Homo sapiens: one gene and its partners. The protein of the gene in region 1 interacts with the protein of each later gene in a pairwise test. Each region holds a gene or a part of one and is shown on either strand. Other genes may lie near its edges. The genes, in order: SFT2D2, TMEM143 and INPP5K.

Region 1 (3,664 bases):
GACAACTTTGGAAGATGAGAGTGAATGTCTCCGATCATTAATTTATTTAACAAATACTTATCTAGTACTATGTGCCCGGCGCTGTAGACACTGCCATGTTTTATCTCATTCAATATTCACAGTGACTGCCCAGTGAATGGTATTGCCTCCATCCTCTGAGAAGGTAAAGAGCCTATCCCAGACCCCACGAGTGGAGGCGTCAGGGAGGGGTTCTTGGCAGGAGATGGGTCTTGTAGAAAGGCTTCTGCTTTGCTTTCACTCACGGCCTGTGGCCAGTTTGCTCAGACAGCTCCCATCAGGACACCATTGGCAGCTTTTGCATGACCCTGCCTCCCAGGGTCTTCCTGCGTTTTTCCTTAAGTTGCCTTATTCTTTGGTTGTTTCCCTACTTGTTTTTGTTAGACTGTGGGAGGAAGAAATCCATTTCAAATCTGCTGAAACCTGTTACCAAGCAACAGCAGTGATTAAAAGCAACCTGATGAGTGAGTAAAGAATTAGGGTTTCAGACCTGTAGTTAATGATGGTCTCTGTCTCCCTGCTGCCCTGCATTCCCTTCCCTTCCGTTCACTGCTGGGTGAAGGAGGGCTTGCTGCATTTTGGAAGTTAAGGGAACCAATAAGGTGACTCTTTTGCAGATTGGAATATGGTGCTCAGCCAGCCATATGGAAGCACTGTCCTGGCGTGATCTGCCCTGGGCTGTTGGCTCTCTGAGTGCTGTCTTGGGAGGAGCACTGCCCTTCAGAACAGAAGAGATGGCTTCCAGTCCCCTCTCCCCCTTCTCCCAGTCTCTCTGAGGCTGCTTGTTGGGTATTGGGCGTGCTGTGTACTAACTCACTCCCGTCTCTTGTCTCATTATCTGAAATGCATCCCCTTTTGCAGAAAGGGCTCAAACGGAGCCTTCAGTTCTGCTCCTCTGCATAGCCGTAGCTCAGATCCTAGCTCAAGATGTCTTGTCTGGGAAGGGCAAAACATGGTCCCCAGTGTAGCATTTTCACTGGGTTGATTATCTCAGTGGTGGATCATCTATCACCCTTGTGTGGTGACTTTGTGAATTATCTGCCTGAGTGCCACTTCCCTTCCACCCTAATCACTGCAGGCTCAGGGAGCAAGAAATAAAATCATGAAATGCATTCCAAATAAAATTACCTTTTGGCTGGGTGCAGTGGCTCACACCTGTAATCTGAGCACTTTGGGAGGCTGAGGTGGGTGGATCGCTTGAGGTCAGGAGTTCAAGACCAGCCTGGCCAACATGGCAAAACCCCATCTCTACAAAAAATACAACAGCAAAAAAATCAGCCAGGCTAGCTGGTGTGCGCCTATAATCCCAGCTACTTGGGAGGGAGGCTGAGGCACAAGAATTGCTTGAACCCAGGAGGTGGAAGTTCAGTGAGCCGAGATCGCACCCCTGCACTCCAGCCTGAGCAACAGAGTGAGACTCTGTCTCAAAAATAAATAAAAAAAAAAATCACTTTTTGATACTTCTGTTAAAATAGATAATAAGGAACCATATCTTAAAGTGTGGAGGATCTGGCTTGGCTTCTGTTTTTGATAGCTCTATGAAAGTGACAGATTTGCATCATGAGACTTAGTGGAATGAATTGGGAAATTGAAGGGCAGCCCAGTGGCTATGGATTCTATTTTCTATGGGACTGTCTACGCCAGGCTTTATTTTCTCTTTGCTCAGATAACTTCTGACTAGAGTCGACGGTAGGATTATAAATGGTTTAAAATACGTATTCTCAAACCTCATTTTCAGCATATAAATTTTTAAGAATCAGTGTTTAAAGGTACGTGAAACCATTTGCTAGATTTTTGTCCTAGTTTTTTTTTTTTAATTTAAAAATCTTAAGTTTTTTTTAGTAAGCTTAAGATGTCCAGTAGTTTATTTGCAGACAGCATTTTTAAAAAGTGAATAGATGTTTAACTGAAGTTAAATACAAATTTATGTCTGTGTAACTCTTGGTAAGATATAACAAAACCTAGACATCTAAATTTTTTGGAAATTTTTATTTTAAAAGTTTGTTGGGAGGTAAAATTGTGTGACTTTACCTTCTGGTTAATAGTTTTATAGTTAAGAAGAAAGTCCAGCGAAGTTTACTTGATCTCAGTTGCACTCAAGAATAGGGGATTTAGTTCCACTTTGGTTATTTTCACTTCTACCCTAAATTCATAGTCCCTGATACTTAAGCTTTACCCTTGGCTTACCAGTTTTCATTGCAGCGAGTAAATGGGGAGTAGCAGAGCCTTTGTTAATGTAAATTGACAAAAAGTATGTCCTTTTCTAGCAGGAGCAGATAAACTGATAATGGTCTTAGAAATGTAGAAAATGATTTTTTGTAGACAGGATGATCTGTCTAGATTGTAGCAAATGATGGTACATATTCACAACAAAGTTGTGCCACTACATTTAATAAACAGCCACAAACAACAAAAGGACAACTGGTCCCCGATATAAATGGACTAGCTACCTGGACATAATATCCTTGTGAGGCATCCTTAAAGGACAAATTGCAGCTGGTATTTGGGTGAATGTTGTTGCTCTGTGCCTGTTGAATGTCCATGCTACAAGAAGTTATGAGCCTTGTTCTAAGTACAGATGAACCTTGTATTTGTGTAATCTCCCAAGGGAGAGCTATGGTTTACATTCAATTTTTTGGTCTTTCTGCTATGAAACGTGTTTATTTTGCCTCTGTCAATGTGTTTGCAACCTTAAGTAAGGAAAGGGAAAAAAAAAATAGCCCTCTGAACTCTGATCTTTTGCCGCTTCTGTAGATTTTGATTGTGAAGTTGGGAGTGAGGACATTCAAAAGCCCATGGTGAATGCATATGCCTTTAGAATATTGTGCCTGTTTTAAAATGTTTGAGCTTTTAAAATACGTTGTTAAAACATGAATCCATTTTTGTAATTGTATAAATACTCATAACTAATTTTGAATGCTACTGATTGTGTAACTGAATTTTTGTATCCAAAAATACATTCTTGAGTACTACTTTTCCTACCTTGAAAATCTATTTCATTTACTAAATATTGTTTTCTTTATGCTAACTTAACTTTAAAAGGAATGTTGCCAAGCTGTCTCTCCTCCCCCATCACAATTGTTAGTTTTTTTTGCTTTCTTTCTTCAATAAATGATAGCATTATGATCTTTAATAAATCTAGTGTTGTCTCTTACTCATGTCTGTATTTCCAGGAGTCTTTAAGCCAAAGGAAGACTGTAGAACTGTAAGAAAAAACCGTATCTTTAATTTGAATTCTCAGTGTGTAGCACACATTATAGGCACTTAAAGATGTTTTGGGGGACCTAACCTGACATGTAGTCCTCTCTTTTAAATGACTTAGGGTTTCACATGGGTCTAGGGACAGTTTGGAAGGTTTTTAAAAAGTAAGACATTTCCTTAAGTGTTTATTTTGGAAAAAAAATACACACACACATACATACATACATACATACATACAAACAAATAAATATATATATTTTTGAGATGGAGTCTCACTCTGCTGCCCAGGCTGGAATGCAGTGGTGTGTTCTTGGCTCACTGCAACCTCGGCCTCCCAGGTTCAAGTGATTCTTGTGCCTCAGCCTCCGAAGTAGCTGGGATTACAGTAGCGCACCACACCCAGCTAATTTTTGTATTTTTAGTAGAGACGAGGTTTCACCATGTT
Region 2 (3,746 bases), on another chromosome or scaffold:
ACTTGAGTCTAGGAGGCAGAGGTTGCAGTGAGCTGAGATTGTGCCACTGCACTCCAGTCTGGGCAACAGAGTGAGACCCTGTCTCACAAAAATAAATAAAGAAAAATAAATGAATAATAATCCTCAAAATCCTCAATAATGACAATGATGATGATGGTGGCAATAAGACCTCAGGTTCTAGAGTGAGACCAAGACTAGGATGAGGTGAATATGGCACCCAAGGGTGCAAAATTTAACGGGGCACTCACTCTTAGGGTCAAGCGAGTGCCCTACTTGCCTAACCCTAGTCCTGGGCCAGCTCTGGAGTCAGACCACTTTGGTTCAAATCTAAGCCACTATGTTGTGGCCTTGGGTAAGTCACTTTCCTTCCCTATGCTTCCATTATCTCATCTGTAAAATGGGGATGATGGTGGTATCTCTCTTACTGATGATTCAACAATACATGAAAAATGTCTGGCACAGTGCCATGGAGTCAGAGCTCAAATTGTGTGATAATAATTATGATTACAGCGTTGTGACTTTATAGGTACAATTATTATCAGGTAGTAGAAATAGTAATGATGAGGATGATTACTATACCCATCTTAAAGAGGGAAAAACCATGCCCCAGAGAGTGCCTGTTCAAGCCCTCAGAACAAGCCAGAGTTGGGAATGGATGCTGCGTCTGCATCTCGGAGACCTGGCTCCTGCATTCCAGCTCATCTCCCGCCCACTAGGGAAACACGAAGGGACCCGGGAACTACAACTCCCAGGAGGCGCCAGGGCAGCTCTCTGCAGCAACTAGGGCCCTGCCGCCGCGAAGCCTGCTGGGAGCCGTAGTCCCCAGGCTCTTGGGCCTGGGACAGGCGGTACCTGTATTAGGAGGCGGAGCAGCTGCTCCTTGGAGAAGGGAATGAAGCGCTCGCGGTACTGCTGGGCCCAGTCGCGGGGCTCCCTGGGGTTCCACATCTTGCGATACTCCCCCATTTTGGCTGCCAGCGATGAGAGGGCCCGGGGGGGCCCGAGGAGCGCGGGCAACAGTGGCCATACTCGGACCCTGGACCCCCAGACCCCCCGGGTCACATGCAGCATGGCTAGACCCTTTCCCCGGAGCCTAAACAGAGGAAAATGGGCAGGGGTCAAAGGCCATCTAGAGGAAAAGCGCCCTCTCCACCTCCACGTCCCACCCTCCAGAAGCCGTCTCTACCCCAGGCAGGGCGCAGAGCCCATCCGCTCGCCTCAAAGCCCCTGTTGCCTGTCCCCTTCCCACACTGCTCAGTTGGCCTGGGTCCCAGACAGGGGTCAGAGGTCTTAGGTTCTGGGGCGTTTTTCAGGCCCAGAGACCCTGTAGTGGTACAACGTTTCTTTGGGGTCTAGACAGCGAGGTAGATCTTAGGAGAGCAGGAAATGCTCGTAAAGGTTACCTAGGGGGTGCAGGGCCGCCCTCCCTGGCCATGCAATCCCCCGATTTCTCCCTCACCTTAGCCAAAGCTCGACTGTCATTGAGCCTCCTGCGCATGTGCAGGAGGGCGTCCTGGGCTCCCGAGGTTCGGCTTCACCCAGCAGTAAAACGCATGCGCAAAGCTTCGGTCAATGCGGGCTGTCCATTTCTCACCGCCGACTCCCTACATCAACTACGCATGCGTTGCCTGCCTTTCTCCACCGCCGGCCTCGTTTGGGCGCGACGCATGCGCCGCAGGAGTGTCTCCTTGTCAGCTTGCTACAAAGGGAAGGGGCGGTGTGGACGCGAGACTCCCTAGAGGGATGGGGCGGGGTAGGGCTCCCGCGCGCAGTCCGCCAACGGCGCGCAGTCCAACGTTCGCCGAGGCCACGCCCCGGCTCGTGTCAGCTCCTGAGTAGGCGGAAAGAGGGAGGGGGCGGGACTTGGGCGCAGCCAATCAGCTGTGGAGGAGCGAAAAGGCGGGAAAAAGCGGAACCAAAAGAAGGCTGAGGTGGCGCTAGGGACCAGGAGGGGTGGGGGTGGCGAAAGGAAGGGCGGGCCCTCAGGTGACGCAGATTGGCCCTCCAGAGAAGGGGCGGCCCCTTCTCAGGTGCCGTCACCCCCAAACCTCAGCACTGCCATTCCAGGTCCTTAAAGGGGAGACCGCGATTCTAAGAAGGTAGCCCAGTGCCGGGGCGTGGCCTCATTCTGAGGTTCCCCACAAATCCGAGGTCCCGACTCCCAGCTTGAGGAGGTGCACTTCCGTGAAAATGGAGCTGAATTCGAAAGGGAGGCCCTTATTCTGGGAAATGGCCCCAAGTGACAAGGACAGCCTGAAATATGCCCTGAGATACCTGGGTTCTCCACGAAGGGTGCTGTCACCCCCAAACCTGAAAGGGATTATTCGGTTTCAGACCTCCCAGGGGCTCTGATCTCAATGGCCGCACCCCCTAGTCCCCAGAAAGTCCCACCTGTGTCCTCTCACAGAAGGACCCAGTCCCTCTGCAGGCCCTTCAGCTCCTGGGTCACAAGACGTGGTCCCCAAATATCCCAGCCCTCCCCTGCACTCCACCTCTGGGATCCCTGACAGCCCTCTCGCCCAACAACCCCCTCAGCCCACATTCCTGACTTCTGGAACCTGAAGCAGCCCCTTCACTTATGTCCCCCACTCCTGGGACCCCCAGAATCACCCTCACCCCAGGCCCTCACCTCTCTGGAATCCTCCATAGACCCCCTTAACCCACACCTCAACCCAGGGGACCCTTAGCGACTCTCTCATCCTGCACCTCCACCTCTGTGACCCCTGGCAGCCCTCCCCACACGACACCTTGCCTGGGACCCCTAGTATCCCCATCCTATGCCCCCCTCTCCTGGGACCCCCAGAAAGCTCCCTCACCACACACAACCCCATTCCTGGGAACCCCCAGCACCCGCATCCTATGTCCCCCACTTCAGGGACCCCTAGCAGCCCTCTCCACACAACACCTTTCCTGGGACCCCCCAGAACCCCCATCCTATGCCTCCCACTTCTGGGACCCCTAGTAGCCCCCTCACCACACAACCCCATTCCTGGGACCCCCAGCACCCCCATCCTATGCCCCCCACTCCTGGGGCCCACAGAAGCCCCCTCAGCACACACAACCTCATTCCCTGGGACCCACCTGCACCCCCATCCTACGTCCCCGACTTCTGGGGCCCCTGACAGCCCATTCACCCCACACCCTGACTCCTAAGAGGCTCAGCAGTCCCCTCACCCCACACAACTCCATTCCGGGGACCCCCCCCATCCCCACCCCATGTCCCCCAATCCTGGGGCCCCCAACAGCCCTTCCACCCCGTGCCCCTGACTGGCATCCCCCATCTGTGTCATCCCACAGCAGCCAAGCCCAGGGCTGGCCTGAAGCCCCCGGACGGCAGTGCCCAGCAGGCAGCGCCCAGCACCCTGGCTCCCACCTCCCAGTGGCCCCAAAGGAAAACAGCTGCCATGCACATCCCCAAAAGCCTCCAGGAGCTGGCCAACAGCGAAGCCGTGCAGTTTCTGAGAAGGCCCAAGACCATCACGCGGGTCTTCGAAGGGGTGAGGCCCTCCCATGGCCCGACTGTGCCCCTGGGTGACAGGAGCCAGGAGCTCTCAACTCCCAGACACAGTGCGGGAGATGGGAGGACAAGGAAGGGGTCAGACGGGGAAACAAGACAACGGAGCAAATGCTGACACCACCTTTTCCTGAGCACCCCACTATAGGCCCTATGCTATTGAGGCACTGATGGACTCTCATAGTAAGGAACAGCCCTCACAGTAGGTGCTGCAAGTCCCATCTCTGAGATA
Region 3 (3,746 bases), on another chromosome or scaffold:
TTCATTCATCAACTAGGGGAAGTCCAGATGCGGGTTATCTTGAAAGAAACAAACTGACATTCTAGGCAGACAGTTGTCTATGTGGTCTGAGGGTCAGCAGCTGTTAGTCTCCTTCCTTTGGCTCTTGAGACCCACACATATCACTTTAGCCCTAACAAGGGCTCCTCCCACCTCCACCTGTTGCCCCAGTTGAAAAGCATCCATTATGAGCTGAGGTCAGCCTGGATCTGGAATTGCAGCCCACATAAACATAAAGGAGGATGTCCCTGGTCTGTTCCATCCCCACGGATGGTGTTGCTGCTGGGCAACAGTGTTGGCTTCTTTTAAGTACCCCCTTTCCTCCTCACCCACCTCCAAACTGACTAGCACTCAGAGGGACTTATGATAAAGGTTCAGCTCCAGGGGTAGTACCTGAGTGTGTGCCATGCCCCTTCAGACCAGCTGCTTCCATCAGAATTCCAGGGTCACAGCCCCAACAGAAGCAGCAGTGCCTCTGTAGGAGGGGTGCTGGGCTCTGGCCTTCTCATGCAGAGAGGTCCGGGACAGGGTCAGTATCGTGGGCATGTGTATAGCTTCCCAAGTTCTTTTACAGTCCCTGCTGGGACTCCCTGACTTACTTTGGTTGGTTCCTAGTGCTACTTGTTTTACAAACTACACTTTGTAGAATTGATTAGATTACCTTGTTTATTTAATGTGAGTTTGTGCCTTTTTGTCTCAATCTTCCAATACAGGTATATTGAGAAAAAAAGCAGTCTAATAAAATCCTAGACAGAACTTTCTGGAGTCCAGTTTGGTGATGTCCATTTTCCAGCTGTATGTATCCTCAAACTTGCACTGATAACCGCCATTTTACCAGGGCAGGATTAGGAAGAGGTACAAAGGTGTGTCTGAAAATTTTTGCACGTGGATTTCTGCATATAATAGTCCCGTGTCAGTTTACTTATGCAAACATTGCACATCTGAATTGTAATTCGGCCGTTTCCTACTGACAGGATGTCCTTTTGCTTTTGTCTGCCTCCTCTTCACATCTTCCTCTTTATCCACCCTACCAAACAAGCAAAACATTTATTTAAAGTAGTTTTAGGCCGGGCGCGGTGGCTCACACCTGAAATCGCAGCACTCTGGGAGGCCGAGGCGGGTGGATCAGCTGAGGTCAGGAGTTCGAGACCAGCCTGACCAACATGGCGAAACCCCATCTCGGCTAATTATTATTATTATTTTTTTTTTTTGAAACGAAGTCTCGCTCTGTCGCGCAGGCTGGGGTGCAGTGGCGCAATCTCGGCTCACTGCAACCTCCACCTCCCGGGTTCAGGCGATTCTCCTGCCTCAGCCTCCCGAGTAGCTGGGATTAACAGGCGCGCGCTATCAAGCCCAGCTAGCTTTTGTGTTTTTAGCAGAGACGGGGTTTCACCATGTTAAGGCCAGGCTGGTCTTAAACTCCTGACCTCAAGTGAGCCGCCCGCCTCGGCCTCCCAAAGTGCTGGGATTACAGGCATTGAGCCACCGCGCCCCGGCCTACGTTTCATTTATTGACGGCTAATTCTGTAGGAGTCCAGGAATCCCCAAACGTCCCATATGCAATAGGTAATCCAATAAGTTTGGAGTAGAAGCCTGAAAGTGGGCGTGGAGAACGGAGGCGCTCCCGCAGTAGCAGGAATGGGGAGATTACCTGCAGCCGGGGGGCGGGGGAGACCGGATCCCAGGCAGGACAGTGGCTAGGCTGCGTGTCCCCACCCCCGACCCTCGTTTGACCCCTGGGAGCCGGGGCGAAGACAGCACAAGGACGGAGCCCTCGGATCCCTCACGAGTGGGGCAGAGGCTGCGGCGGCGGCGAAGAGACAACTTCCGCCGGAAGACGGCCCCTGGCGCGGGGCACGCTGGGAGCTGCGGACGGCGGGCGCGGGCTGGGCCGGGTCTAGTGGCGGCCGCACACCTCGCGTCGTCTGGGGCAGTGTTGCGCGTGCGCTGATGACAGGCCCGACACGCCCCTCTTACGTCCGCGAACCCGTCTTCGCTCAGCCTCTCGCAGCTTTGCGCTCGTGGGAGAGTCCCGCCTCCTTCTGCGAACCGCACCACCCAGATCCCGGGGTGCGCGGAGGGCGCGTCTCTGACGGAAGCCGGGGCGGACGGTCGGAGTCCGGAAGAAAAACAGTCCGCGACAGCTAGGCGCGTGAGACCGGCCGCCCGCAGGGCTGCTCTGGCCGGGACCCGCTGGCCGGGAGACGCGAACCTGCCGGACCACCGCGCGGGGACGACGGCGGCCATGAGCTCGCGGAAGCTGAGCGGGCCGAAAGGCAGGAGGCTCAGGTGAGGGCACCCTGGCGGCAGAGGCAGGCCTGCTCGGGGGGATCGGCGCCCCTTGGGCTGCGGGCTGGGGGTGGACAAGGCACCAGACCTCCATGACTGCCTTTGGTTCAGAGGCGCTCTCGCCTTCTCCCACGCCTGTGTCAGGTGGGCTGTGTTGGGCCCGAGCCTCGCGCCCCCTCTAAGCCGAGGCCGCCAAGCTCGTTCCCACTGGGGCGCAGCAGGTGTCCCGGTTGCTTTCTGGAGAGGACAGCCGTGTGGGGTTGTTTGAGGTTAAAGACATAACGAGGCCGTCACCCTTCGGCTCTCGGTTAGAAATCTTTTTCCTACTTTTCATCAGCACATACATCAGGAGGTCTGCCTGATCCCATGGTGAACCCCGGGAATCCGAAATCAGATTGAGATAAGATCCTTTAGGGAAGTGACTTAGCCTGGTCTCTTGCCTGCTCTTTCACGGGGAACAACGCTAATCGCCCACTTAGTCTAAGTCACGATGCTTGGATTTGCTGCTAATCGTCGGATTTGAGAGTGGGAACAAGAAATCCGGACTTTTGCTCTCCATCCTCTTAGAGTGAGTCTGGGAAAAGAAGTCTCTGAGTAAAAGGTCTTTGTTCCTTAAGCCTCTGTCGGACAGCAGGGGGAGATCGTAAACAAATGAAGCTCAAAATCTCAGGCCGAGTGCCTGGGAAGGTGGTTTCTGTATAGTGTTGTTTATGCTAACAGGGAGGGACAGGAAGTTGCTTTAAACTGGCCAAGAATTTCTTGAAGTGCTTTTGAGAACGTCGACCTCTAAGGACGGGGTCTGTTGGAGGAGAGATGTTTTGGCATTAACTGCCCTTTTCTCCCATCCCCCTGTACCCTCTGCCATTCCAGATCTCCAGCTGCTGCAGGTACTCCTCATCGTGTGCCTAGGACTCATGCTAGGCTGTTCCTGGTCTCTGCAGGGTCTGTAGCTCCTGCCCGCTCTGTGCTCCGCACAGTCTGAGGCTTCTTGAAGAGCTGCTGTGACTGACTGTTCCACTAAAGACATCTGTAGGTCTCTCTTTCCTGAGCCTCTGACTGGATCCAGTGTCATTGAGGCCCCTTATCTAGTTTTCTTGCTTCCCTAAGACTTGTAAGCTGAGGTGGAAAATATCCAACTGATGACTTTTCCCCAGAGAGTACTCTTTATTTTTCACGGAATACTACGCAGACATAGAGCATAGACTCTTAAGAGAGATGTCGAGAAACCTGTTACTTAAAAACTCCTTGGCCGGGCGCGGTGGCTCAGGCCTGTAATCCCAGCACTTTGGGAGGCTGAGGCGGGCGGATCACCTGAGAGATCAGGAGTTCAGGACCAGCCTGGCCAACATGGTGAAACCCCGTCTCTACTAAAAATACAAAAGTTAGCCAGATGTGGTGGCACACACCTGTAATCCCAGCTACTTGGGAGGTTGAGGCAG

The links.
Region 2: the proteins of SFT2D2 (region 1) and TMEM143 interact in binary tests that used the Homo sapiens proteins (3 or more experiments, as listed by UniProt).
Region 3: the proteins of SFT2D2 (region 1) and INPP5K interact in binary tests that used the Homo sapiens proteins (3 or more experiments, as listed by UniProt).

The regions. Positions count from the first base shown.
Region 1 is NC_000001.11:168,249,871-168,253,534, forward strand, and holds the end of SFT2D2 (vesicle transport protein SFT2B), read left to right. Parts: 3' UTR 1-3,151; downstream 3,152-3,664. UniProt on the Homo sapiens protein: May be involved in fusion of retrograde transport vesicles derived from an endocytic compartment with the Golgi complex.
Region 2 is NC_000019.10:48,362,439-48,366,184, forward strand, and holds the start of TMEM143 (transmembrane protein 143), read right to left. Parts: upstream 1,503-3,746; 5' UTR 1,483-1,502; coding exon 1,460-1,482; intron 1,094-1,459; coding exon 853-1,093; intron 1-852. Other genes in the region: SYNGR4 (synaptogyrin-4), read left to right, coding at 3,405-3,497.
Region 3 is NC_000017.11:1,515,017-1,518,762, reverse strand, and holds the start of INPP5K (inositol polyphosphate 5-phosphatase K), read left to right. Parts: upstream 1-2,150; 5' UTR 2,151-2,263; coding exon 2,264-2,307; intron 2,308-2,644; exon of another isoform or gene 2,645-2,875; intron 2,876-3,177; exon of another isoform or gene 3,178-3,336; intron 3,337-3,746. UniProt on the Homo sapiens protein: Inositol 5-phosphatase which acts on inositol 1,4,5-trisphosphate, inositol 1,3,4,5-tetrakisphosphate, phosphatidylinositol 4,5-bisphosphate and phosphatidylinositol 3,4,5-trisphosphate.